5 linked regions of the Homo sapiens genome follow. The protein of the gene in region 1 purifies or fractionates together with the protein of each later gene. This does not show direct contact. Each region holds a gene or a part of one and is shown on either strand. Other genes may lie near its edges.

Region 1 (4,632 bases):
GGTCTTATGGTGGTTTATTTCCTCACGGACTTAGTAAGTTCTAGCTATGCATTCATCCTGAGTCATAGATACAAACACAGATTCATGTGCTATATACCACCTGGGTTTGAATTCTGGCTCTGCCACTTAGTACCTGTGTGACCTTAGGTAAGTTATTTAATCTCTCTGTTCTTCAGTTTCAGTATCTGGAAATCAGGGCTGTTCTACAAATGAGTTATTAGGTTGGTGGAAAATGATTGCAGTTTTTGCCACTAATTTCAACGGCAAAAACCGCAATTACTTTTGCATCAACCTAAATAATATAAGCCAAGCACTTAGGACAGCATCTGGCACATAATTAAGCACTTGGCTAGTGTAATTACTGTTATTTGGCAGGAATTGTTTTACCTTGGAGTCTTATGTACTTTGGGTTATGTGACTGCCTACTCTCAGCTCAAAGTGGCCAGTACACTTCTGAACTGTGTTTTTTCCCCCATCCCCACTTATGGGCCAGCACTTACCACTACTGACTTTCCATAGGAGCTCAGATTCCACTCCCGTTCCCACCCTGCCATTCAAACCCTTCGCCCAGGATATGTGACCACCTTTGGTTCTTCTGTGGGCTGTGTAGTTGCTGCTGTGGCTTTGAGCTCCCTCTTCATTTCTGGCACTAGAATATGTTTATTTTTGCTTTTGCTCTCTACAACATATTTAAATTTTTGAAAAAACAATGTGTTTTGAGCAGGGGAGGAGCTTCCTGCAACAGCTCAGGCAACCATACTGACCAGTAATCCCTAAAAATTCTTTCTTTTTTTTTTAAATTTTAAGTTCCGGGGTACATGTGCAGGATGTGCAGGTTTGTTATGTAAGTAAACATGTGCCATGGTGGTTTGCTGCATCGATCAACCCATCACCTACATATTAAGCCCAGCATGCATCAGCTATTTTTCCTGATGCTTTCCACCCGCCACAGCCCCCCAAGAGGCCACAGTGTGTGTTTTCCCCTCCCTGGGTCCATGTGTTCTCATTCTCCCTGAGCATTCTTCCTGAAGAGGCTTACCTCTCATTTGGCAGTGGGCTCCTTGAGAGAACTGGGGACAAAGGCTGGATTCCTGGTGGGAAGGGACATATATTATTTGTTTTTGTATTCCCTATGCCTGATATGTGTTTACTGAGTAAAGACACGAAAGACTGCCTTGGCAACAGCAAGCACTACAAGTGGCCAGCTCACTGCTTGATTTCTCTAAGAATTACCACCACCATGTTGTAACCCTCCTCCCCGCCCTTCTTCCTGTGAATGAGTTCTGTCAAGGTGACATGGCTTCTAACACATGACAGTAGGTATCATTCAATCACTGATGATCTCAAGGGTGAGTAGCTTTCTTTTACTCTGTAAACAAAATGCCAAACTGGGAAATGCTGCAGAGGCCACATATTATTCTGACTTTCAGAGTGTTGTTTCGAAAGCACCAGAGTAAAATGTTAAGCAGGTAGCTGATGCAATCTGGCAAAGTCAGTATATAGCTCTATTTATATAAAGACACACACATATATCAGACCATCAGAAGGATTTGTATAAAGAGTGACTCTCCTATGAAGGTAAAGGCCACCCCTCTTCAGTTCCAGTGACTGAGATACATTTTTCCAATCCTGGGGGCAAATACAGACACAGCAAGTTCCTTCTTCCCTTTGGAAATTTGGCAGGTAAGTCAAGTCTGTCTCTGTTGCCACATTCTCTCGAGATTTTATGACTGTGCACATGGCCTGTGTGAAAGCTTCGCTTAGGTCACCTTATGCCTTGGCAGCCAGCATGGTGTATGACGATTCAGGAAGACCCTGGTGTTTCCCAGATGGGGCCAGATCTGGCCATGCAATTATTGCCCTCCAGCTGGGAAATGTGACATGGGGGTGATGAAGTGGCTGCTGAGAAGGAGGCAGTTAGACTCTGAATTTGGTCTGTTCTTTATTTAAATCTAAAGATTGAACACACACACACATAGATCTAAAATCAATATCATACATTCACACACACACACACTCACACATGCACCACTCCCCAACTGCACAGGGTATTTTTTAGGGATTCATGTGGGATTCCCCTACACATATTTCCCAGTCTAACTGCCTATTCTTTCCCCTGTTTACTTGCCATCTCATCATTCTCTCTTCCTTTACTCTCCTACTTATCTTTATCATTGCTTTTAGCTGTGTGTTCCTATTAACCCAGATGATCAGTTTCAGACTCTTTGAGAAAGAGACAGGGACCCTAAATCCATTGTGAGCTGCTTTGTCTCATTCTCTCCCATGACCACAGAGAGGCATGTCTCTGGACCTTGATTCTGAGAGGAAACAGATTCACAGAAACTACACCACCACTGGTAGCACAATGTTACTCTCAGGGTGGACATTCTCATTTATAAAAAGAGTAGTAGAATAAATTGCATTCTAATCCCAGCAGCTCTAATAACTTGTCCTTCTTTCTATCAATATACTGATCACTGTTACTACAGAGGCAGCAGGGAACAAATATGGGCTCTGTATTTAAACAAACTTGGGTTCAAGTTCCAGCTTCAGCAGTTAATAGCTGAGTGACACTGGGCAAGTTGCTTATCCTCTCTGATCTTCTGTTTCTTTATCTGCTTAATTGGCATCAAATAGAATATACAGACAGTCCCCAACTTGCAATGGTTTGGCTTGCAATTTTTTGACATTATGACGGGCTTATTAGGGTACTGAATGCATTTTTGATTTATGATATTTTTGATTTGTGATGGTTTTATCGGGACATAGCCCCATCATAAGTCAAGGAGCATCCGTATGTTCAAGGTGCTGGATACATAATTGGTGCTCTATAAATAGGTGGAATTACTATGATTATTTGGATGATGGTCGCAACCCTTGGTCCTTCCTGTCTCACTGGAGTTAGAGACAATCAGAGTTAAAGGAGGACTCTAAAGATGAACAAAGCATCTTCTCACGGTCAAGTGACAGCTCGGAGCTGCTGGATGCTCAGCATAGCACTAGCTCTCTAACAGGCTCTAGGAGAAACAATGGGTAGATCTACTCCTGCTCTCAAGGGGCCCTGGCCATCCAAATGAGCAGATAAGATGAAAATGTCTACAAATGTTAAAAAAGAAAAAAAAAAGGCTGGGCATGGTGGTTCATTTCTGTAATCCCAACACTTCGGGAAGCTGAGGCAGGAGGATTACTTAAGCCCAGGAGTTCAAGACCAGCCTGAGCAATGTAGGGAGACACCGTCTCTACAAAAACTAAAAATAAAATATCCAGGCTTGGTGGGGCACACCTGTGGTCCTAGCTACTCAGGAGGCTGAGATGGGAGGATCACTTGAGCCCAGGAGATCGAAGCTGCAGTGAGCCATCATCACTCCACTGCACTCCAGCCTGGGGGACAGAGCACAACCGCATCTCAAAAAAGAAAAGAAAAAAAGAGGAAAATGTAAATATGAGTGGGCAATAAGACTAGTATCTGCTAAATTCTTCCCTATAGACCACAAGTGCTATGGAAATTCAGAGAGGGGGTGCTGCTGTGAATAAGAAGTCCTCCTGGAGGAGGCAAGGCTTCAGCTGAGACTTAAAGAAAGGATGAGGCTTGGAGTGACCCCTAGAAAAGGTGGGAGCTCTGTGGGCAAATGCTGGTCAAACTTGAGAGGTAGGCACAACTGTTATTTCCAATTTACAGATAAGAAAATGGAAGGCCAGATAAGCCTAGTGACTTCTCTAAGGCCACTCAGCAAGTAATGGCAGCACTAGGATTTAGGTAGAGATCGGTCTCTGTCTGGTGTTGAAGGCTACATTCAAAGCTGGCTCTGACTGAAGAAAGATGAGAAATAGGAAATAGCCATTGATGGTTTTCCAGATAGGAGTGACGTAGAAAAGGCAGTGTGTTTTCTATATTCACAGTGCAGCAGGTGTTCAGGGGACGATTCTGGCACTAGAGGGGTCAATTAGGAGGCAGTTGCAATACTTTAGGGCTGAGGTATTGAAGGCCTGATCCAGGGTAGGGGCATGGTGGGACTAGAGAAGGCATTAAGCCATTAGGCATGTCAAAGGGCAAATTCACAGACTTGGGAACTGGCTGAATAAGGAGAAAGAAGGACAGCGGGATGATTAAAGAATCTGATATGGGAACCAGAAGACTGGGCAATGCTGCTACTAGGCATATTGGGATAGCATACTCATTTTAAGGTTGCTGTTTATATAAAACAGAGCCTGGTTTCTTTTATTATTATTGCTATTAAATCTTTTTATTTTTTTAAAAACACACATACCATAAGAAAACAGACAAATTCAGAATATGAGATATTCTACAAGACAACTAGCCTGAACTCTTCAAAAATTCAGTGTCACACACAAAAATTAGGAGCATGCACTGTTCTAGATTAAACGACACTAAAGGGACATAAGTAGATGCAATACACAAACCTTGGTTTTGGATTCTGGATTTTACAAAGCTATGAAAGACATTTGGGGAATATTGGGGCAATTTGAATATGGATTGGAAATTAGATTATATTAGGAATTATTGTTTATTTTCTTAGCTGTGATAATATATTGTGGTTAGGAGGGAGAATCTTCTTATTCTTTAAAGAGTCATTCTGAAGAATTTAGTGGGAATGTGTTATGATGCCTGTG
Region 2 (4,131 bases), on another chromosome or scaffold:
GTGGGCGCCTGTAATCCCAGTTACGCGGGAGGCTGAGGCAGGAGAAGTGCTTGAGCCTGGGAGGCAGAGGTTGCAGTGATCCGAGATCAAGCCACTGCACTCCAACCTGGCGACAGAGCAAGACTCCATCTCAAAAAAAAAAAAAAAAAAGTTATGAACTTTTTATTATAAACATGGCTATGATGAAAAAATATTAGATGAATATCACTTTATAACTAAATATTTAGACAATATGTCACACTGGAGCCTGGTCTAATAGTCAAAGTCTTCTTGAGAAGGGTTTAAGAGGATACGATTAGAAGTCACAGATCTTTTTGCCTTTAATAGAACTATATTAGGATGCTAAGGAAGAGAAGATACAGTCTTTGTGAGGCAATGGAAAGGTATTCAATTAGTCCAGGAGTTAGAACATGAAATTCCTTGTTACATGGACATGTTGCAAACAAGAAAGGAAAATAAAAAATAACATTGTAGTCCCAAAGCAGTCTGCAAACAGGCATGAGATACAAACACAAGCTCTAAAAGCTGGGAGAAGTGTGTGGAAAAGGTCCATTAAAGGACATACGTTTTGAGTTGGTAGAGAAGGTGATAAATGAGACTAGCAAACCGAATGGAAGGTGTAGGCATCTGGTGGGGGTGGTGGGTGGCAATACGGAGAAAAATGTAATTAGAACAGGGATTATACTAAGGAATAAGGAGGTGTACATGTGAGTGAAGGGAACAAAATAAGGCTAAATTTGTGGAGGACTTTGGCAGATTGAGAAATTTATATTTGAGGTGATAGCTGTTATAAAGCCTTGAGTAGAATAACTATATTTGTTGAGAGCAGATAGGATTAAAGATAGAAAAGCTGACTAGGAGACTATGGCATTTATTCAGGAAAGGATGGACACTGAGAAAACTTATTGTGGGAGAAAACTGGGAAGAGGACTTGCTTACTGAATATAAGAGAAGGAAGGGTCAAAACAGAATTGTGGGTTCTGTAGACTAAGAAAATGGTGATGGGGTCGGGTGTGGTGGCTCACGCCTGTAATCCCAGCACTTTGGGAGGCAAAGGTGGGTGGATCCCCTGAGGTCAGAAGTTCAAGACCAGCCTAGTCAACATGGTGAAACCCCGTCTCTATAAATATACAAAAATTAGCCGGGCATGGTGGTGGGCACCTGTAATCTCAGCTACTCAGGAGGCTGAGGCAGGAGAATTGCTTGAACCCAGGAAGCAGAGGTTGCAGTGAGCCGAGATTGGGCCATTGTGCTCCAGCCTGGGCAACAAGAGTGAAAGTTCGTTCAAAAAAAAAAAAAAAAAAAAAGAAAAGAAAAGAAAATGGTGATGGGGATAAGGAAATTGGGAAGAAGCAGTGATTTTGGAGATAAAGGAAATGTGATTTTTATTTTAGAAATGTTACAGCAGGTGGTAGAGCATCTAAAGGGAATTGACTTTTGGATGCATGGAGAAATGACACCAGAATTCATATAAGAAGTAAAGGTAGAGAGATTTGGGAGCCACCTGAATAGAGGTCAAAGTTGAAACCTCAAAGTATATATACATTTTTTTAAAATACATTAATAAGAAAGCAGAGGACCAAGCATGAACATAGAAGGTAGGGATTTATTGAAAGTTGTAAAAGGGAGAGGACAAAGAAAGATATAAAAAAACCAAGATAGTGGTGTAATGAGAGCAAGGGAAGATATATTTTAAGCTTAATGTTTCTCAACATCAATTTGGATATGACCAGAAGGATGCCAAAGGCAATCCTAAAGTGTGTTTTGAAGGTTTAATGGTTCATAGGTTAAAAATGTTTATACACTGAGGAAAATATCCCCTGCCCCCTCAATTTGTTTGCCTTACGGTTTAGTTATGGATGATTTGGGCTAGAGGAAAATAATTGAGCTAGCTATGCTCCAGTTCTTTCCCTTCTTTTGGTGTGAATATGAGGAATTCCAAGTAAAAATAATTATTAGGTAATATTAATGTCTCTATTATACTGTATTGTATGGTGCAATATCTCTGTTATACTGACATGGGGCTTTCTTTATTCCCAAAGACAAATATAATTTCATCTCATGTCTCCCTTCAGCAAGATTTTAATTCTTCCTAATGATGAATACTTGAATACAAATAAATTTCTGGCCCCTTATTTTTCTACTGAACTCGGGAGATGGAGATGCCTCAGGAATATTTATTTGAATGAATTTAATGCATGTTTTCCTGTGTATTTACAGATGGGACACGAGTGGGTTTGGCTGGATTCTGAACAAGATCATCCCAATGACTCTGAGTTGAGCAATGACTGCAGGTCCCTCTTCAGCTCATGGGACTCCAGTCTGGATCTTGATGTGGGCAACTGGAGGGAAACTGAGGATCCAGAGGCTGAGGAACTAGAGGAAAGCAGCCCGGAGAGAGAACCTAGTGAACTGCTTGTTGGGGATGGAGGCAGTGAGGAATCTCAGGAAGCGGCAAGGAAAGCCAGCCACCAGAACCTCCTCCACTTTCTCTCTGAGGTAACAGTGAGCTCTTATTTCCAAAGCTGGAAAAGCCTCAACTTTCTAAGAGAATGCTTATCCTTACATGCTTCTACCACTCTTAATATTGTTTACTAAAATATAAGCTCCACAGTGGCAGGGATTAAGTTCATTGCTATGTCCTCAGCACTTGGTGCTGATACAGAATATGCACCAAATACATGCTTTTTGGGCCGGGTGCAGTGGCTCACGCCTGTAATCCCAGCACTTTGGGAGGCTGAGGCCAGTGGATCACTTGAGGTTGGGAGTTCGAGACCAGCCTGGCCAACATGGTGAAACCCCATCTCTACTAAAAATACAAAAATGGCCGGGCGCAGTGGCTCATGCCTGTAATCCCAGCACTTTAGGAGGCCGAGGCGGGCGGATCACTTGAGGTCAGGAGTTCAAGACCAGCCTGGCCAACATGGTGAAACCCCATCTCTACTAAAAATACAAAAAATTAGCCGGGCGTGGTGGCGGGCGCCTGTAATCCCAGCTGCTCGGGAGGCTGAGGCAGGAGAATCACTTGAACCTGAGAGGCGGAGGTTGCAGTGAGCTGAGATCACACCATTGCACTCCAGCCTGGGCGACAGAGCGAAACTCTGTCTCTAAATAAATAAATTAATTAAAATTAAAATTAAAATTAAAAAATTAGCCGGGCTTGGTGGCATGTGCCTGTAATCCCAGCTACCTGGGAGGCTGAGGCAGGAGAATCGCTTGAACCCGGGAGGCGGAAGTTGCAGTGAGCTGAGATCGTGCCATTGGACTCCAGCCTAGGTAACAGAGCGAGACTCCGTCTCAAAAGTAAAAAAATTAAAAATAAAAAAATACATGCTTTTTGACTGAATTTCTAATACTTCAGTCATTAGGGGCCTGGGTCATAAGGACTGCTTTATGAGTATCCTTGTAATTCATGCTTTTGGAGTTGTGGGAAGTTATACTTGCCCAAATTTTCCTTGAAGCTTAAAATGCTGTAACTTTAAGGTAGTATTTTTAAGTGTCATTACCTTGGTTAAGGGCTGAGGACCAGAAATAAACAGAATTGGACAGAGAGTTATATGTATGCTGTTATTGAACACATTTAGAAGACCCTAGATCAAGATCAGCAAGCATCCATTTCAAATGTTGCCACTTCTCTCTACAAGTGTCTGTGGTAGACAAAATTTTCAACACTTTATTCTAGACAGCCACTCCCAATTGATCAGAGTTGACAGCTGAGATGAAAAAGTAGAACATAAACTCCTGGAAGAGGCAAGAACCATATCTTTCTTGTTCACTGTAGTGTCCCCACCAACCAGCCCAGTGCCTGTGTATATAAGATATTTTGGCAGATTTTAGATGATTGTATTAATTAAACCATTTTGTCCTCTCAGACTTAGTCACTGTGACAGTGTTAGCATGTGGCATTGTTGATATGTGGATGATGATTTTCAGTGGTGTTCCTGTGCATCTAATAATAAACTTTGATTGCAGGTAGCTTATTTAATGGAGCCCTTGTGCATCAGCAGCAACGAATCAAGTGAAGGCTGCTGCCCTCCATCTGGTACCAGACAAGAAGGAAGGGAAATTAAAGCTAGCGAAGGAGAAAGGGAGCTCTGCAGAGAGACTGAAGAGCTTTCAGCTAAAGGAGAC
Region 3 (4,131 bases), on another chromosome or scaffold:
CCGAGGTCTCCGGCACTGAACCTCCGTCACTTCCACAGTTGTCCTGTGCTTCTCCCGCTTTGAATATTCCCCCACACCCCACCCCACTTAGCTCCAGTATCAGCTTTGAAAGCACTTCCTGTTGCCTGGCCAGGGTGGTGGCTCCCAGCCCCAGGGTCCCTAGACTGGCCCTCAACAACCCATGCTCTAAGATCCTGGAATGCGTCTGGCTTTCCTGCCAGGCTGTGCAGTCCTAGAGGGAAGCGGCCGTGTCTGCGTGCTGCTGGCTCCCGTGTGTGGAAGGGTGACTTTCTCCCAGGCCTCCCTGACCCTCCTGCTCTGTGCTCTTGAGCCCTCTGCCCTTGGCCCTCACAGTACTTATCACCAGGTGTCACTGTACATTTATTTGCATGTTTATTGGTTTAACACAGGGGTCGCAAACTCAAATGCCCACAGGGGCCAGGTTAGGTTAGCGGCTGAAGCAGTCTGGGGAGAGGCAAAAAGCAATGGCAGGGAGGTGGGACAGAGGAATGTGGGCCCCAAACTATGGGGGCAGCTGCTACTCAGTGCCAGCTGTTCGTCGCCATGGGGGGAAGCGGGACCAGAGCCGCCGGGTCTTCGGCTTTTTCAAGAGGACGCATAACTCCGGATTGTTATTTGAACTGTCCTGACTTTGGTAAGACTCTGCAGACCAAACAAAGCACATGTGTGGAATGCGCAGGGCCCCAGGACTACCCGTTTGCGACCCCTGGTTAACAGCTGCCTCCTCACCTAGCCTGGCAGCTCATTCAGAATAGGGACCGTATTTGCATTACTCACCTGCTACTCCCAGTGCCTGATTCAGGGAAAGTGCTCAGTAAATGAGCTGTGGAGCAGAGCTAGGCCTGGCCTTGGGCACCGGGGAGGGGCTTGTTTCCTTGAATAGGGGCCCTGGGCTCATCTCAGCAAGAACCCTGGCACATGCACCTGCAGCCCACACCTCCCTCCTCCCCGGGGTGCTAGCTGGGGCTATGTGGCCAGCTCCTCCAGGGCTCAGGGCTGTCTCTGTGACCCCGGGGAGCTGGGCTGGGCCCACACCTGTGACGGTGACAGTGAAGGAGGCCGACTCATCGTCAATTTCACACAAGTACTCGCCGGAGTCCTCGAGCTGGACAGCGGGCAGCACCAGGCGGCGGACAGTGTCTTCCTTCTGCAGGAGCAGCGCGGGGCTCTCCACCACCTCCTCTCCATCCTTGGTCCAGCGCACCTCTGCCCAGGGCCGGCATAGCTCACAGGTCAGCACCACACGCTCCAGGCGCACGGCTGCCACATACACCTTGCCGCTGGGATACACGATCCACGAGGAGACGTCTGGAGGACAGGGACAGCCACTGCCGGGCATGAGGGGTGTGCCCTGCCGTCCTCCCTGACCCCGTTGTGTTCCCTACCCCTGGAAAGTAGGCCATGTGTTGAAGAGGGACCTTCCTGAGACCAAATCTCACAGCAGCTGACAGTTACTCACAGCTAGAGACACACGAATACAGCTGTCACAAAAGCACAGCAGACTTTCTGCTGCGCAGGAGCTGCACAGAGGGGACCACGGGGTCAGCCTCGGCTGTAGAAACGCTCCACATTCTCTGGGTTGGGACAGGGACGGTATGAAGGGTGGAACTGATGAGAGGAGGGTTGGGGGGAGGAGCTGGGGGTCTCCTCCTCCAAGATGTTTTTGCCCCCCTAGTGCCTGAGACCACCAGCCCTAGACTCTGCCCTACCCTGCAATAGACTCACTGTCCCCAGAGATTTCCCTTGGTACAGGTTTTCAGGAGAATAGAGAAAGCCAGGCTTCCTTAGCCAAGACCAATGTGCTTATGATAACACGTTTCCTGAATGTGACTAGACCATAGCTTGAGGAGAAAGGGAGGAGGTCCGATCTGCCAGGGGGAGGGCAGTAGGGGCGGGGAACAGTGGCCTGGGAGTGAAGGTGTGGCAGCTGTTCCAGTGGGAGCAGGGGCACCTTCCCCTGTGCCTCCGAGGCCCACCTGGCCCCCCACCTGTGATGGTGACAGTGAAGTAGGCACACTCATCTCCAGCGACGCACTGAAACTCGCCCCCGTCTGAGGGCTGGGTGGCGGGCAGCACCAGGCGGCGATGGGGCCCCTCATTCTCCAGCACCACGAAGTCACTCTCCTCCACCTCCTGCCCGTCCTTGTACCAACGCACAGGGGCGTCCTCTCGGTCCACCTCACAGGCCAGCATGACACACTCGGAAGTTATGGCATGCACGAACACATGTTCTCGGGGGTCCACGATGTGCACGGGAGGATCTGGGTGGGAAGCAGAGATGGCATTGCACAGACACCCCCGCACAATGAGTCCAAACTAGCTGTGTGGCCAGGAGACACTGTTTCTGCACAAGAGGACACTGGAGGAGGGCTAAGGTCCTGCTGTGTAGGGACTCAGGGACAATGACAAGGAATGCTGAGGGCATGGCAGGTGAGGCATGGCAGGAGATCATGTGGCACCAGAGTGCTCTGTAGGTCCCCAAAGGATCAGAGGTGGCGGGGTGAGTACATAGAGAGAAGGAAGCACAGAGAGTTCACAGAGTGGCAGCCACCATTTGTCTAGGCTGAAGGGAGGTCACTGTCACAAGTCACATCAGGGCCATGCTTACTGCCTCTATTACGAGAAAGACCCCAGGGTGGGCAGGAGGTGAAGGATGATCCAACAAGTGGCAACAGTGAGACAGCCACTCTCCAGGTAGTGGGTTCCCTGTCACTGGGTGCATTCAGGCAGGGGCCACAGTGTGGAAAACAGGACTCCCACTCAGTGAGATGAGTGGGATCCATGGTTCCCAAGCTGCTCTCTCAGAGAGTCTGCACTTGTTAGGAAAGGATCTTCAGGCTCCACCCTGGATACTGGGGCTCTGGACAGTCCAGGGATTTATAACCAGCTTCCAGGAGCTTCCTAAAGCAGCCAGCCTACGGACTGCCTTGTGAGAACCACGGGGTGACTGCACTCGATGCTTCTGTTTGACTCTATCTGAGGCAGCAGGAACAGAACAATCCTGTGTGTGTCGCCAAGCTATGGTGTGACGGAGGTCACATAACCTCTTACAGCCTCCATTTCTTTGCCTGTGAACTGGAGATATATTGCCCCTCATCGAGTTGTGAAGATTAAATGAAAGAGTGTATATTGAAAATACTTAGCATAGTGCTTGGCTCAGAGTAAGTGTCCAAAAAGTGTTTGCTCCCATCTCTCCTCCCCTTAATTGCATTTTGTTCCCCCACCCAACCCAGCAGAGGCTATGTGGACAGCGAGACAGTGTTAGTGTATCAGGGGTTTAGGAGGCAAAGGCACGCTGTGCGTGGCACACACCTATAATCCCAGCTGCTCAGGAGGCTGAGGAAGGAGGATCGTTTGAGCACAGGAGTTCAAGGCCAGCCTGGGCAACAGTGAGACCCTCATCTTAAAAAAAGAAAGAAAGAAAGAAAGCCAGGCATGGTGGCTCATACCTATAATCCCAGCATTTTAGAAGGCTGAGGCGGGCAGATCATTTGAGGTCAGGGGTGACCTAACCAACATAGTGAAACCGTCTCTACCAAATAATAAAAAAATTAGCTGGGCGTGGTGGCGCGCACCTGTAGTCCCAGCTACTTGGGAGGCTGAGGTGAGAGAATCGCTTTAACCCAGGAGGCGGAGGTTGCAATGAGCTGAGATCACGCCACTGCCCTCCAGCCAGGGCAACAGAGTGAGAGCCTGTCTCCAAAAAAAACAAGAAACAAAAAAGCAAGTGCAGAGTTATCTGAAACATGTCCCCTGGGCCACTGGACTCTCCCTGTAAAGGACTCCCCCAAGTAGGCAGCAGACCAGAGGGCATGGCTTATGCGGCCCCACAATCAGCCTTGGCTGGAGGAGCCCAGGCTGGCATGCTTCCTGACCTTGGACAGTGACGCCGAAGAAGGCCGAGACCCCTTCTGTCCTGCACTCAAACTCGCCACTGTCCTGGACTTTGGCCTCAGGCAGGATCAGACGGTGTTTGCGCCCATCCATCTTCACCACCAGCAACTCGCTCTCCTCCACCTTCTGCCCATCCTTGTACCAGGTTGCCGGGAAGTCCACCCTTGAGAGCTCACAAGTCAGCACCACCCGCTCTGAGGTTGTGAAGGTCAACGA
Region 4 (4,772 bases), on another chromosome or scaffold:
AGCAGAGAGGAGATATGCGTAAAGGGGAAGAGCCATGTGATTTGTTAAAGTCAAGTTAACTAGAATGCTGAGTCCAAGTGTGGGGTTATGTGGGAAGGCCAGTGGTGTGTGAGGTACACAGGTAGGGTGAGTTCAGATCATGAGAACATTTGAATGCTGGAGTCTGGAATTTGTTCAGCAGAGCGTGGGGAGCCATGGAAAACTTAAGTGGATATTTTTTAAATGTGTCAAAACTTACCCAGAGTTTTGACACAGAGAGGAAGACTTTGCCTGACCTTTGTATCTCCTTTCACCTGTGTATCTCCAGTACTCAAAGAGTTCCAGACACATAATAGGAGCTCACTGTATGAATTCAAGTGAAGAGAAGGTGCCCGGCTGGCATTGCAGCCAGGACAGGGCTTGTGGGTTTAGGTTGGGCAGTGAGGAAGTTGAATGAATGAACTTAAGGGGACATCTTTGGAGAAATTACACAAGATCTAAAAGCTATCTAGGATTATTTAAAAAACTTTGGGAGGCAATTTGACAATATACACCAAGGCATTTATAAATATTCCCATCATTTGATCCAGTAATTCTATGTGTGGGACTCTATGCTAAAGTAATAATCCTAAAGGAGGAAAAGTTTTATGCATAAAGAAGTTTTGCTTCATTATGCTATATGCTTCAAAAGCAATATTACAGTATTGCTTTTTAATAGAGAAGAAATGGACACAGTCTAACAATTGGGAAACAAGTTGTGTACCTTCTATCTGTGGGGGTATTTAATATGTTGTCATTAAAATTATTCTAAAGACAATGTAATACTACAGATAAATCCTTAAGTTTAAAAACGTGCAAAATTGAACATAGAATATTTTAAGTCATGGGAGTGTGCGAAGTGAAGGAGAAATCTCTCTCAGTTAAGTGTTTGTCCGGGAGTGGTAAAACACTTTTTCCTTCTTTTTATCTTTATCTTTCTGTGTATTTTCCAAATTTTACATAGTTACCTCATTTACTCAAATACTTATTAAGCATCCACTATGTGCCAGGCGCTGCTCTAGAGAATTGCGGGTAACAGTGAATAAAACACAACTCCTGTCCTCGAGCCATAACATTTACAAGATAAATCAACTAAATGTCATATGAGACGGTTAGTGCTCGGGGAAAAATAAGGCAAGGAAAGAGTAAAACTGATACTGCATTTACTTTTTTAAATGGAGGGGTAAGGTACTCCTCCAGGCAGAAGAACAGCAGGCTGAATTCGGAATTGCCCCAGCGGTAACAGAATGAAAGAGCTTGGGACACGCCAGCCTGTCAGCAACGTTGCAGCCGAGGCGGGGCGCGCGGGTTTAGGATGGGCGCGCGACAAGGTGAAGCGGATCACGTGACTCGAGGGGCGGGAGGAAGAGAGCAGAGTTTGGCCGGGCACCTTCCCTGCGAAAAGGCGGGCGGAGCCGAAAACCAAACAAACGACTTCTGAGAGATTGGGGGCGGGACTGACGGCGGCCGGCTTAGCTTCCAGAGCCAAGGCCTTCCGCCGAGTTGGTTTTTGGGTTGTTGATCGCGGTGGCCGGGCGGTCTGCGGTCGGGCTGAGACACGCGGAGCAATGGCGACCTTTGTGAGCGAGCTGGAGGCGGCCAAGAAGAACTTAAGCGAGGCCCTGGGGGACAACGTGAAACAGTAAGAGCTGCCCTAGCACAGCGTCCAGGCCAACACGCGGGTGCTCTCCTGGCCTCGGGCTGCCAGCCCGCCCCGGAGACGCCCGCGTCGCCCGGGGGCCTGTGCAGCCTGGAGTCCGCGGCGGCGGGGCTTCGGGGTTTCTCCGGCCGGGGCGGGGCGGGCCACCTGAACTCACCGCCCTGGAGAGACCGGGCCTCCTGGGCGCCCGGGAGACATCGGCGGGCGCCGTTGCTCGGGACTGTCTGCCCTGGGTGGGGCGGGAGAAGCGCACTTCGCACCCAAGGGCCTGCTGAGCAGGTGCGGGCCCCAGCGCGGGCGTGCGGGATGCGGGAGGCTGACTTGGGCGGAGTGAGCCGGAGCCCTACGCGTCCAGCCAGAGGGCATAGCGCAGGGCGGCCCGCCCCTGGAGGGCTTCCTGGAGGTGGAGGCCTGTTGAGCTGGTGTGATCTGCTACGGATTATTGGTAAGCTCTTTTGACAGCAATTTCGTAAGGCAGACGGACCCTCTGGTGAAATCACAGTCATTGAACACTACAATTATAGTGATGATAGCAGTAGCGGACATTTTAAACATTTTAAGCTCTCTAAATATATTATCTAATCCTTACAACAGATGTGAGATAGGTACAGTTGTTATTCCCATTTGACAGATGAGAAGACTGAGACCTAGTGCGGACAAGTAACTCTTCAAAAGTCACTGTCAGAGTTGGGACCCACGCTTTTGATTCCCGACTGATGCATTAGAGGGGCTGTAAAGGATCCCAGAGACGCTCAGCCAGACCTTCATCCAGGTTATGGCAGGGGACCTAGTGCACAGTCAGGTTAGGTGCAGAATGGCCAAGGGTAAAATCAGTATCCAGTCAAAGCCAAAGCCAAAGAGCAAAAAAGGAACCTCTGGGATACAAGGAAGAGTTTGGAAATTTTCAAAACGTTGTTATTACAACTTTATTTTTCAAAAATATAGGAAGCAAATATAAACGTTTAAAATTACAGTGCCTGTGTTGTTGCTGCTAGATGGCTTCTCTGGTATTCTACACATTTGCATTACTCAGTGGATGCATACTTTTAAATGATGTTGGTGGAGGAGCAATTTGGGAATACTTAATTTTTCTCCAATACTTTCTTTTCATCCTTCTCTGTTCTTTATTATTACTGGATTGAAATTACTTAGGTTGGATGTCATACATGAATTTTGGAGTTTTTCCTTCATGTGAAATTTTGGGGTGGCAGAGTTGACAGTCTACTTTTCATCCTAACAAGATAATAATGGAAACTATAAAAAGATTAAAATTAAAATCTAAACTGTTATTTTAGCATAATTATTTAATTTTTGGTGAACATTTATTTACGCCCAGAGATATGTTTCACTTTGTGTTTGGGGGTTGGGGTCTTGCTCTGTGGCAGAGGCCGAAGTACAGTGGCCTGATCACACAGTTCACAGCAACCTTGATCTCCTGAGCTCAAGAGATCCTCCCCTGCTGTGAGCCTATAACTGGGACTGTAGGCACGCCCCGCTAATCCTGGCTAAAGTTTTTTTTTTCAGAGACAAAGTCTTGCTGTGTTGCCCAGGCTGATCTCAAATCCTGGCCTCAAGCAGTCCTCCCGCATTGGCCTCCCAAAGTTCTGGGATTACAGGCATGAGCCACCACACCCGACTATAGTGTACCACCGAAAATTGTCTTTCGATATTGATGTTCACTGTGCTTATTGAATTAAATATTCTTACTTATTTTAATAGGTAAAATTGACAGCTTTCACCCTAATTACTGTAGCTTTTTACTTTTGTAATACCGACTGATAAAATTTACCTTTTTTTTTTTTGAGATGGAGTCTTGCTCTGTCGTCCAGGCTGGGGTGCAGTGGCATGATCTCCGCTCACTGCAGCCTCCACCTCCTGGGTTCAAGCACTTCTCTGCCTCAGCCTCCTGAGTAGCTGGGATTACAGGCACCTGCCACCACGCCCGGCTAATTTTTGTATTTTTAGTAGAGATGGGGTTTCACCATCTTGGCCAGGCTGGTCTTGAACTCCTGACCTCGTGAGCCACCCGCCTTGGCCTCCCAAAGTGCTGGGATTACCGACGTGAGCCACCGCGCCCAGCCAAAATTTACATTTTTAAGCACATAAGGGGCATTTCACTCTGTTCCATCTAGAATGCTTACAAATATTTGAAAGCAAACGTTTACATACCAAAATAAATCTGAAGGACCTGGCTTGTGTATGATTGCCTTTAACCCTGATTAGATGCAATGGTGACCTCTGTCATCCCATACTCATCAGTTACAGGTTCAGGGCTGCCAAAAGTGTTTTTGAAGTTAGCATTCCTTATTTAGTTTTTAAAGGCCAAAGCCGACTGTCTGATGTTGGTCAAATACTGATGCTGAAGCTAAATTTGGTGCATCTGGAGTGTGAATCCCCACTAAAATGCAATCAAAAGAGATTTTTATGCCAGAAACAGTTAATGGTAACGTATAGTTCTAAATTTGTTTTTCCATTCTCTCATTGTTCTTTTCCCTTCTCCTTAAAAAGTACCTCTGGGTTAAATAGTCAGTAATACTCTTGTACTGTACAGTCATTTCTTATATTTCCTCCATGAGCAGTTTGCTTTGGTTTGCACAACCTATTTAAGTGTGGTCCTCGGTGGTAGGCAAAACATACAGGGTTATGCACGGAGGCTGGATATGAGTTATTTGCTATTTATCCAGTGGTCTGAACATCCTTCATGTCTGACTGGTTGGGTTGTGTGCCCAAGCTGCTTCCAGGAAGACATGGGCTTTGCTAGGCAACTCACTTTGTATAGTAGCCAGTAGAATGCCATGTTCAAATAGGTGCCTGATTTCTTTTGAGGATTTGATCATATGTTATTTATTTATGCATTTATTTATTTATTTTGAGAGAGAGTCTCACTTTGTCACCCAGGCTGGAGTGCAGTGGTGCGATCTCGGCTCACTGCAACCTCCACCTCCTGGGCTCAAGTGATTGTCCTGCATCAGCCTCCTGAGTAGCTGCGATTACAGGCGCCCACCACCATGTCCGACTCATTTTTGTATTTTTAGTAGAGACGGGGTTTCGCCATGTTGGCCAGGCTGGTCTTGAACTCCTGACCTCAAGTGAT
Region 5 (4,131 bases), on another chromosome or scaffold:
ACATTATTTAATTCTAAACCTTACTTAAAATGTTGCCCTGGTAGAGTATCATAGCACATGTTGATATCTGTAAGAAAGTTATTTCTAATTCTAGCAGTAATCCAGTGGGAAACTAGACTTAGAAAAGGATGTTATCAATAATGTGACATGAATATTTTTCAAAGAATTTGTGTATTTTTTGGTTTCACTTCAAAGTAATGAGTTTGAAAAAATATTAAAATATTTAATATTAAGTTTAAAAAATACATTAAGACATTTTTTGTTAGTTTGAAGTGTCATATAATTTTCTGAAATTAGTCAAAAGATCTCTCAGTGACAAAATAAAATTTTGCCAAGTTAACTAGGGAAATAGTATTATAAATAAAATAATTTTAACCAGATCCTTTGAGGAATGGAGTTTTCTGGCTAACAATCCCTTTTGTTTCACCTCTTCACATAAATGTTTACAAGCATTATGATTCACTCTCATGCCTTAGAGTAATAGATGTATAGAATATAGGAACTTCTTTGTAGACTGAGGATCTTTCATCATTCTAAATAATAGCTTTTATCGTATGACAGTGTGGATGATGGCCTTATAAGCAGGAGGAGATTAGGCTCTAAGTAATCACAGGGCATATTATGAAAAGTGACCAGCCTCCACCATCCCCTCCTCCCATTCTCTAATCCCTAATCAGTTTTGCTTTAATTTTCATGTCCTGACTTCTGAAAATGGAGTATAGAACATTTCCTAACAAGTTGAGAGTCTGGGTCTTAGAACTTAAAATTTATTGAAGGAGACTTGGGAGATTATTTAGCCTAACACCCTCATTTTATAGATTAAAAACCTCTGAGGCATAGATTAATTGACTTGCTCAAGGATACTAAGCAGATTCACTAAAAGAAACAAAAATTTAGGTTTCCTCATTAAGCTGACACTTTAACAGTGTCCCAAATTTTGGTGGTTATCTTTGATCTTCTTTGAAACAGGTAGATCGACACTTGAGAAAGCTGGATCAGGAACTGGCTAAGTTTAAAATGGAGCTGGAAGCTGATAATGCTGGAATTACAGAAATATTAGAGAGGCGTAAGTAAAATTTACAGTTTTCCATCAATATTGGACAGTACATGTGCAAATCGCTGAGAAGACCTTGTCCCACAGAGGCTTTTGAAATCCTGCCCTTCAATGGATGGTGGCATCCAGGCCAGATAGCTTGGACCCTAACAGTTGGAAATGTTTGGGTCATGCATACTGAGAGAGATAATATAGGATATCATCCACTCACTCTTTATGAAACAACATATTAAATCATTTTATATCCACATATACTAGTAAGTTGAGTGGTAAGAACAAATTTAAAGAAATGTAACCATCGGGAGACAAATTAACCATCTTGCATTAAGTGTGTTGACTTTACTCTGCCTCTTTATACACTTAAGCTTTGAGGAAAGTTGTTAGTTTCTCTTCTTAAGAATTACTTTATGGCTTTTCCTTAACTGCATATACTGAAAAAGACTCACATTGGTTTCATAACACTACCTCTTTTTCTTAAAGAAGTGTTTTCTTCTTTCCCTTAGCAGCAAGAAACCATTTTGATATTTCTTTGCAAGGCTCTATTTGATCTCCTGCTATAACTTACCCCTGTCACTTCTTTGGTGTGACTTCCCAAAAATGGAAGCATGAGCACTGTTTCCTTAACTAATTTAGCATTTCTTCAACCTAAATAGGTAATGTACATAAAAGCAGTTAGTGTGGTACTAGGTGTAGAGTAGGCACTCACTAGATGTTAATTGAACCAAATTAATATTATGGCTAATTTCTACTAGAATTTAATTAAAACTTACAAACCTTCTTTTTCTTGGTGCATTTCAACAGTAAGAATATGTACCTGTTTCTACACACAGATGAAAGATTTCTTTACAGTGCCAATCTATGTATCTCTCTACTCACTAGAAGTCAGCTAGGGAAGCCAATCACAGATCTGTCTTGGTATCCATAGTTGCATTTTTGTGTTCAAAAGTAGATCCATCACTTTAGATAATCATCCTATTTATTTGTGATACTTTTCTTCTGGAGGAACCCTATATAAAGATAATAAGTATTTTGAGACAAAATTAAAAATTCTGTATCTGCTTTGATTTTTTAAAAATGCTGATGATAGCTGTGAGTAATGATAATTCATGCCTATTCAGTACTGCAGGAAGGTTAATAAAGCATCCTCTCTAAGGACACAGACATATGAAACAAAATTGGATCAAGTTATAAAAACTGCTCCACCCTGTGCCCTGCCATAATTTCATCTCAAGGGATCAAAAATAAACCCAGAAAAATGTATTTAGAGGTATTTTAAAGCTTGGTGTTAGAGATTCTATTCCTCACTTTTTGCGAACAAAATCCCTAACTTCTTTTAGGAAGTCTTTATTATCATAATGTCATTTTAATGATCAAATAATTTTTTTCATATAGTAATGTCCCCCATCACGTAGAACTTCAGAATCTCCCATTAAAAGGTCTTCAACTCAGTAAAACTAGGTTGACTCTTACCAGTAATGAGATTACAATGTCCATTCATCCATTTATATGGCACCCACTATGGTGAATTCCCTAATTAGACACGAGTATGCCTTGAGCCATTTTGTACTTAAGATTAATATTGGGAAAAGGATAACTTATTGTTTAGAGAGAGGATAACTCAGTGTGGGATGGACAGTGGTGATCCTCTAACATGTCTGGCTAAAATAAATACAGGCATATGCATCAGAACTTGCTAGTCCTCTGCTGGGTAAGGGAACTCATTGCCTGTAGTTGAGTGACATGTGAAGTTCTGCGGTGACATTTAATGGTGGTGTATCTCTGTGCCTCTCTTCTTTTAGGATCTTTGGAATTAGACACTCCTTCACAGCCAGTGAACAATCACCATGCTCATTCACATACTCCAGTGGAAAGTAAGTTTGGTGTAGTGCAGCTAAGTTTTAAAAACAATGAAAACCTTATTATATCACCTATATGTTCTCTTTTTTTAACTCTACACAACCAATTGAGAAATAAATCCCTTCTTTTTTTTTCATTGCAAGTACTGGCAGACTTGTCTTTTTCCTTGGGGGGAGCATATGTGATTCGGAAATGAGTATTCTGTTTTCTCTTAAATGCGTAGAAGGAGAATGTATAGTACTAATAGCATATATTCCCTTCATACACATACCTGATTCTCCTTAGGGAGCTTTTCAACTGAGCATTCTCCTTAGGGAGCTTTTCAACTGAGCCAAACAATAAGCTATTTTGTAATAGGCCCTTTGTCTTTTTCATCCTTGCTTCTCCAGTGCTTAACCTAATGTTTGGCATATAATTAAGTCTGAATGGTTGGTAAGTCAGTGAGTGGATGAATTGTTAGTTAGATGACTGGCTGGCTGGTTGGTAACAGTCAAAAAATGACTATATCAGTACATCTTTTGACACATCAATTTGGTGGGAAACTATTTTAAGTGGTAGATTGTGTTTTGAAAACAAAATTTCCCTCACATTGTATGTGAGCCCATGGTGTATCTTGGGTTATCTTTAGTACTTTGCTAGAAGTTTTTTAAATGGTGGAGAAGTCTACTCTTAATAAACATGTGACACAGAGTTCTGCTTGTCCTGCCTTCTGAGGAAACATCATGTTCTGTATTTTATGAGGAACCCAGATCATACTGTTTCACATTTTAACTGGATATAAGTATTATGCCTTGTCCATAGTTCTCTAAAGTTTAAAAACACATGAATTTTTTATTTATATTTAGAAAGGAAATATAATCCAACTTCTCACCATACGACAACAGATCATATTCCTGAAAAGAAATTTAAATCTGAAGCTCTTCTATCCACCCTTACGTCAGATGCCTCTAAGGAAAATACACTAGGTAAGTTAATTTTCTTAAATATGATTGCTTTGTTTGTTTGTGTTAGAGTAAGGGGAAATAAAGTGTTTCAGGATTAATGAATCATACAGTTTCTTTACCTGGTTAAAGTATACATATGGAGAAAGAAGAAAAAGGAAAACCAAATACATTATTCAGTTGACTTAATGTACAAGTGACATTAAAAATTTTAATGATTATATGTCTGTGCTGGGAAATAATGTAATTTAGACTCACTAACATTATGTTCTCTGCAAC

Evidence for each region.
Region 2: the proteins of PLAC1 (region 1) and BRD8 purify together in Homo sapiens (affinity purification with mass spectrometry; 3 studies listed by BioGRID and IntAct, with this or other methods). This does not show direct contact.
Region 3: the proteins of PLAC1 (region 1) and OBSL1 purify together in Homo sapiens (affinity purification with mass spectrometry; 3 studies listed by BioGRID and IntAct, with this or other methods). This does not show direct contact.
Region 4: the proteins of PLAC1 (region 1) and TADA1 purify together in Homo sapiens (affinity purification with mass spectrometry; 3 studies listed by BioGRID and IntAct, with this or other methods). This does not show direct contact.
Region 5: the proteins of PLAC1 (region 1) and ING3 purify together in Homo sapiens (affinity purification with mass spectrometry; 3 studies listed by BioGRID and IntAct, with this or other methods). This does not show direct contact.

What each region holds. Positions count from the first base shown.
Region 1 is NC_000023.11:134,655,379-134,660,010, reverse strand, and holds the start of PLAC1 (placenta-specific protein 1 precursor), read left to right. Parts: upstream 1-1,539; 5' UTR 1,540-1,683; intron 1,684-4,632. UniProt on the Homo sapiens protein: May play a role in placental development.
Region 2 is NC_000005.10:138,150,850-138,154,980, reverse strand, and holds part of BRD8 (bromodomain-containing protein 8), read left to right. Parts: intron 1-2,220; coding exon 2,221-2,499; intron 2,500-3,972; coding exon 3,973-4,131. UniProt on the Homo sapiens protein: May act as a coactivator during transcriptional activation by hormone-activated nuclear receptors (NR). Isoform 2 stimulates transcriptional activation by AR/DHTR, ESR1/NR3A1, RXRA/NR2B1 and THRB/ERBA2.
Region 3 is NC_000002.12:219,561,346-219,565,476, forward strand, and holds part of OBSL1 (obscurin-like protein 1 isoform 1 precursor), read right to left. Parts: coding exon 3,897-4,131; intron 2,283-3,896; coding exon 2,010-2,282; intron 1,330-2,009; coding exon 1,057-1,329; intron 664-1,056; coding exon of another isoform or gene 539-663; exon of another isoform or gene 377-538; intron 1-376. UniProt on the Homo sapiens protein: Core component of the 3M complex, a complex required to regulate microtubule dynamics and genome integrity. It is unclear how the 3M complex regulates microtubules, it could act by controlling the level of a microtubule stabilizer.
Region 4 is NC_000001.11:166,873,048-166,877,819, reverse strand, and holds the start of TADA1 (transcriptional adapter 1), read left to right. Parts: upstream 1-1,555; 5' UTR 1,556-1,586; coding exon 1,587-1,660; intron 1,661-4,772. UniProt on the Homo sapiens protein: Probably involved in transcriptional regulation.
Region 5 is NC_000007.14:120,963,773-120,967,903, forward strand, and holds part of ING3 (inhibitor of growth protein 3), read left to right. Parts: intron 1-969; coding exon 970-1,066; intron 1,067-1,483; exon of another isoform or gene 1,484-1,699; intron 1,700-1,930; exon of another isoform or gene 1,931-2,061; intron 2,062-2,853; coding exon 2,854-2,925; intron 2,926-3,756; coding exon 3,757-3,876; intron 3,877-4,131. UniProt on the Homo sapiens protein: Component of the NuA4 histone acetyltransferase (HAT) complex which is involved in transcriptional activation of select genes principally by acetylation of nucleosomal histones H4 and H2A.